Linked DNA regions of Homo sapiens: region 1 is linked to region 2. The links come from fine-mapping of genetic effects on gene expression. Tissue or cell type: T cells. Region 2 holds a variant in brackets; the other region holds the start of a gene. All regions are shown on one strand. Distances are between the middles of the regions. Region 1 holds the start of MME (membrane metalloendopeptidase). Region 2 overlaps MME (membrane metalloendopeptidase).

Evidence for each region. PIP is the estimated chance that this variant, and not a neighbour inherited with it, causes the effect.
Region 1: it holds the start of MME, and the variant in region 2 is fine-mapped to the expression of MME in T cells (TOPMed, PIP above 0.99).

What each region holds. Positions count from the first base shown.
Region 1 is chr3:155,078,621-155,081,531 of GRCh38, forward strand. MME (membrane metalloendopeptidase) reads left to right here and starts at 1,699. Exons shown (of 23, transcript NM_007289.4): 1 at 1,699-1,846.
Region 2 is chr3:155,116,299-155,119,198 of GRCh38, forward strand. MME (membrane metalloendopeptidase) reads left to right here. Exons shown (of 23, transcript NM_007289.4): 5 at 181-261; 6 at 366-461; 7 at 570-688; 8 at 2,448-2,513. Among named protein-coding and RNA genes, the nearest start is that of MME, 37 kb to the left of the region's middle. The variant T/C (reference allele first, on the strand shown) is at 1,137.

The DNA.
Region 1 (2,911 bases), 38 kb before region 2:
AGTATGAATTCCGCAGTGGAGTGTGAATATGTGTGTGTATGTGTGTGTGTGTGTGTGTGTGTGTGTGTGTGTAATTACCTGTGATTCAAAAGAGGAAAGGGATCAGTATTAAAGGTACTTGTACACTGGAAGCAAAAAAAAAAGGAAGTTTAGTTCCTCTGAGCTCCTTGGCAATTATAGCTGCTAAAGGTAGCTTTTACAAAGAAACTGCCTTTGTGCCTAAAGTATTTATTTCCTTGTTTGTATTTACCCCTTTGAGGAGGAATCGCTGTGTCTTGAGTGAAAGGGGTACGCTGCTTGCTTGCATTAAACTGTGAGGGTCCAGGCGCATTACGGCTGATTTCAGTAGGTAGAGCAGACACACTTTAGTTTATTTTTCTCTTTCTCACTCCCCACCCTCAACCTCCGATGTACACACGTTTTAAGATTCCCTGAAGTCAGGAGGTGGGAGCGGAGAGTTTCAGTTCAGATCTTGACATGAGAGTACTTCGACCAAGGAAAAGAAAGGGAAGAAAGAGGGAAGCGGGGTGGAGAAAGCAGGAGCAAGGAAGGAAAGAAGGAAACGGGGAGGGAGAGTAAGAAAAAAGAAAACGAAGGAGGGAGGGAGAGAGGACATTTAAATGAAGAAGGAAGGAAGCTTGGATTCAGGGAGGAAAGGGAGCGGGAAAGAGAGCGAAAGAAGAGCGTGAGAAGAGGCAAGCATTATAGTCTCCGGTCCACAGGGGAGAGATGGAGCCCCCTCAGGACTAGAGAATCCCGAAGAGCCCGTGTATTGTTTTCTTGAAAGCCCCGAAGCTAAGCAATTCTAAAAATGTTTAGCAAAGCCCTTTTGGGAATGGTGAGATGGGGGGTGGGGAGGATGGGACATTTTCATTGCCACCGCCCGCCCCCCGTCTCCCCGGCCCCCTCACATGAAGTGACTGGATTTGGGAGACCTAGCGGAAACCTTCAGGTCACCCAGGGAACTGCTCCTCTCTCTGGTCCTGCAGCGGCGAGGCGGGGTAGGGGGTGGGGGGGGTGGGCCGTGAGAGCGCCGAGACGCGCGGGGCGCGGAGATGTGCAAGTGGCGAAGCTTGACCGAGAGCAGGCTGGAGCAGCCGCCCAACTCCTGGCGCGGGATCTGCTGAGGGGTCACGGTGAGTCTCTGTGGGTGCGGGTCGGAGGGATGCCCAGGTGCCTCGTCGCCCCACGGCCCGGGCGGAGGCGGGTCCGGAACCTCCCCCAAGTCCGGCCTCAGCCTGGAGCCCGCGCGCCTTGGGCGGATGCACGGACTGAGAGGCGCTTGGCTGGGCTCTCAGCCCGCCACTGCCACCCGGCCCCGTGCGCTCATTGGTCGGGATGTGTCGGCTCAGCAGCCTCCAACTTCTCCCGAATCCCACTGGTGAGTCCCAGGAGAGCGAGCTGAGGGAGAAAGGTCCAAAGGGCGCGAGCGCCCAGGGCGCTGGGAGCCCGTGGGACGGGCACGGGGAGGGCAGAGCCAGCCGAGGGGAGCGGCTGCCGGGAGGTGCGCTGAGCAGGGTCCGCAGCTAAGGTCCAGCGCGATCCGAGCGCCCAGGACCCTGCGGCCGTGGAGGAGGCGTGCCCTGGGAAGGAGCCGCTACTGGGACCTGAAGAGTGAGGGGAGGGAGAGGGGCCCAGAGGGTGACCTGGAGGAGGGCTCTGGAAGTCACGTCAGGTTGGCTCTTCAGGTTCATTTCCATAGTTCCCTGCGGCCTCTGCCTTGGGGAGTTATGTTTTGTTACCGAGATCCGCGCTACCAGATTGCACCGGGGCTGATTTGGGGGCTGGGAATTTGCCATTCTGCTGTACAGACACTGATTTTTTTTTCTTCTTTTTAAAAAGCAAGGTTTGTTTTCATTTTGGTTTCTGTCGGATTTTCTCATTTGTAACTCACTTTTCTATTTTTACTTTTCTTAACCGGAAGATCTTTTCATTATCCCACCTCTTCATCTTGCTTTTAACCTGATTTCCTATTATATAATTAATGCTTAAATCTCACAAGGGTTGGTCGGTGCGGGGCTGGTGTGTCCTTTTGTAGATGAAAGTTTAAGACCTCTTAACTGGTTTCAGTCTATTTGTCTGGTTTCAAAATAAGGGTAATTGCAACCAAATATCCCTCTTTAGCTTCTCGATCAAGTCGATTCCTCCCCCATATATGATTCAAATGGCAATTTTATTAAACTGAAAACTAGTACCTGACTTGCAGCGTCAGCATTTGGAAAGTGCTTGTCGGCAAATCGACTGTATGAAGGCGTGTAGCTTCATCCCCTGCCATTTTTGTGGGTTCTAGCACTTTAAAAAATTGTCTGGTAATTTCTTGGACTTAACCCTGTGTCTTTGGTTGTAGAGCAGCACTAACCAGGGGAGTAATATGGTTGGCACTTCGTGTCCAGAACTCCGTATTTCAGGCTGGGAAACACCTAATTAATGTCTGGGAAACAAGAAGATGATTTATCCTGAGTACCTCTGTCCTCAGCTTCTGCAGACACAGTTTAAATATGGAAACTGTTTCTCCTTCTTCCTGTGCCTCAGTTTCCATAGAACAAACTGTAATTGCATAGCACAGCTTCAGGAACCTGCAGATATAAGTTAATGTTATAATGTGCAGTGAAGATGAAAACTGCTTAGCTAAGTCTAAGTCTGTAAGTCAATGAGATTTCCTTTTTAACAAATCAGTTATCCAGGTTTCCTGCTTTGACTGTCTGATATAGTAATGCTTATGCTCAACTGGTATAAGAATTGCTGCTTTACATTGCTTTGAAATTAAGCTTACACTTAAAATAGTAATTTATTCTGTTGGTAATATTGTCGAGCTGAAGTTTGCAGGTTCTTGTTATCTTAGACCTCCTAATTCTCTATTCTCGTCTGTGGCAGTGTCCACTTTTCCGTTTAAACTTTTTATTTAACACAT
Region 2 (2,900 bases):
TTGGTTTTTCCTATAATGTTTTGGAACTGGGGGGAGGAAATGAATGTACCTCCAGAAAAGCAAGGTTTTTTTTTAACTGAACCCACTTTGCAAATGTTAATTACTGCAAATGAGCAATTATGTTTGCATAGTGCAAATGAGCAATTATGTTGATGCATTTTATTAAATGTCCTATTTCAGATGTCCTTCAAGAACCCAAAACTGAAGATATAGTAGCAGTGCAGAAAGCAAAAGCATTGTACAGGTCTTGTATAAATGAATGTAAGTGCTCTTCATTTGATTTCATTAGGAGTATATATATATATATATTGGTGCCAAACTATGCCTAGATTTCTAATTGAATTTATGTTTGTTGTTTCCAAAAGCTGCTATTGATAGCAGAGGTGGAGAACCTCTACTCAAACTGTTACCAGACATATATGGGTGGCCAGTAGCAACAGAAAACTGGGAGCAAAAATATGGTAAGGCAATTTTCCTACTAAAAAAGAAATTTCCATGTAAAATCTATGTTATAATATCATTAGTGAACTAAAGCTTCTAAAGATATATTTTATCTTTTATTGCTTTAGGTGCTTCTTGGACAGCTGAAAAAGCTATTGCACAACTGAATTCTAAATATGGGAAAAAAGTCCTTATTAATTTGTTTGTTGGCACTGATGATAAGAATTCTGTGAATCATGTAATTCATGTAAGTTTGTGTGTCAAATAACTAAAGTTACCTTTAAATTGTAATAAAACTTCCACATACATTGTTGTTATTGATATTTAGAAATAATGCTATTTTCAATTGAATTGAATAAGCAAGGAGGTAGTATATCCATGCTCTGTCCCTAATACCTGGAGTTCCAATTTTGAAAGTATTTTCTTAATGCTGTTTTCGACATTCACCCCTTGCTTCTGCTACCTCTGTTTTAGATACCTCTCCCTTCACAAAACAAATGATAAGAAGGGCTCCAGGCCCCTCCTATTCAGAAAAAGTTCCTAATTTCTTTGTATAGTACTTGAAAGGAGCATGCTTTCGTTTATAGAAGTAATGCAGGTCTAGAAACCAAAAAATAATAATTGCTTTCAAAAAGAACACAGAAAAGGGATTTTAAACATCATTTTTTTCCTCACTAAAGAGTATCTGTACTTTT[T/C]TCTCAACTAAAGGTAAATAAAATGCCTTTCTTTTAAAATGGATTTATTGTATTTTTACAAATGTAAACAATTTGATTTAGGTGTCACCTAAGACTAGATTAATGACTATGTTTGGAATGTACTGAAAAATATAAAGAGTTTTTCTTTCTTCCTTTTTTTTTTTGTTTTTTTTTTTTTTTGGTTTCCTGTGTAAGAAATTATACAAAAAATTGCAGGCTACTGAATCACCTAATCATATCTGTGTCACTATTGCATAAATCTTTATGGTCGTTTTTGTTAAAATCATGAAAGGAATTGAACCCAAATCTCCTGCAGTGGGCTCTCTCTCTTCTGAAACTTTCTCCTTGCAGGATCACCTTGAGGACCAGGGGGTGGGGAAGGATCAGGGCCCTTCATGTGGAGATATCTTCTGGCTCTTTCCATACCAGTTCTTTGGGTTATGTTTTCTTTTCTATTGGCCTAGGCTCTCCACAGCTGCTAGGATTCTCTCTTTAACCCAGAAATGCTCTGTTTGGCCTCCACACTCATGTTGCCATGCAGTGAGTAGGAAACAATCTTGCAAAGCTGCAGTATGCCCAGATAGCTCCCACTTGGGTATTAAACATGGACCAGACACGTTAGCGCAAAACTGAGTTTCCTCTTTCACACCCTTAACTGCTATCTGGGTCTACTGAGGTTCTTCTGAGCAGAGCAGCTTTGAGGAGAACCAAGGAGAAGTCGCCTCCATTCCCTTAGGGTAGAGAATCTTAAAAAACATTTTCTGGCACAAGTTACATTAGCTAAAAGATTCTGGAGTTACCTTAGAGGTTTTCCACTTCTCCCCTTCTCCCCATCCATCCAAATCAACTTGAAGAATATTAACCCACTCCCACCAATGAAAGGGGATCCCAACTAAGGGTGGAAGCAGATGAGAATGTTCCCAGGGGAGCACATTAGAATCTCAGGAAGCTGAGAAATCTGTGAATATGTAATTTAGAAATTTCCACGTCCTAGAATCTAACATGTTTTTGTTCACTTGCACCTTCTGCTCTGCATTAAAAATCCCTCCTAGTAAATCTTTTGTTCACTTTCTTTTGTTTTCCTTAAATATCTGCAGCACAGTCCTCCAGATTATCTAACTGCCCGTTAGTATAACACTTACAAGTAGTGTAGAAAGCATTTCCTAACTAGGTATTTATTGAGTGTCTGATGGTCACCCCATAAACAGCAAGAGTAGGATCTTTCACATACATAGATAGACATGCTTGTATTTTTCAAACTTTTCTATATTCACTGAATGATTTATTTTCTTTTATGTATATTTTTTATAGATTGACCAACCTCGACTTGGCCTCCCTTCTAGAGATTACTATGAATGCACTGGAATCTATAAAGAGGTAAAAAGAAAAAAAATAATCAAAACCAAACTACAAAATGATCTGGTGTAAACCTACAAGTAATGAAAAAGATAAAGCCAAATTAAATTTAGCCCTCTGATGTTTTTCATTCATGACAGGGACTTAAAATCACACATAATAGTGAGCTGTCTTTGATAGAATGAACATTCTCAATAGAATGAATGAAGGTATTTTACAAAACTAGGAAACTTGAAATTCCTTATTTGTATCTTGGTTTTTAGTATTTAAAACATATGATCGATTTTGAAAAGTTAATTTAAAATATTTTAATCCACCTGTAAACTGCATTATTTAAAAAATGAAAAGATTTATCATGGTCTAGGGTGGTGCTGGTGAGGACCAGAGGGTCAGTGAGAGATACACTCT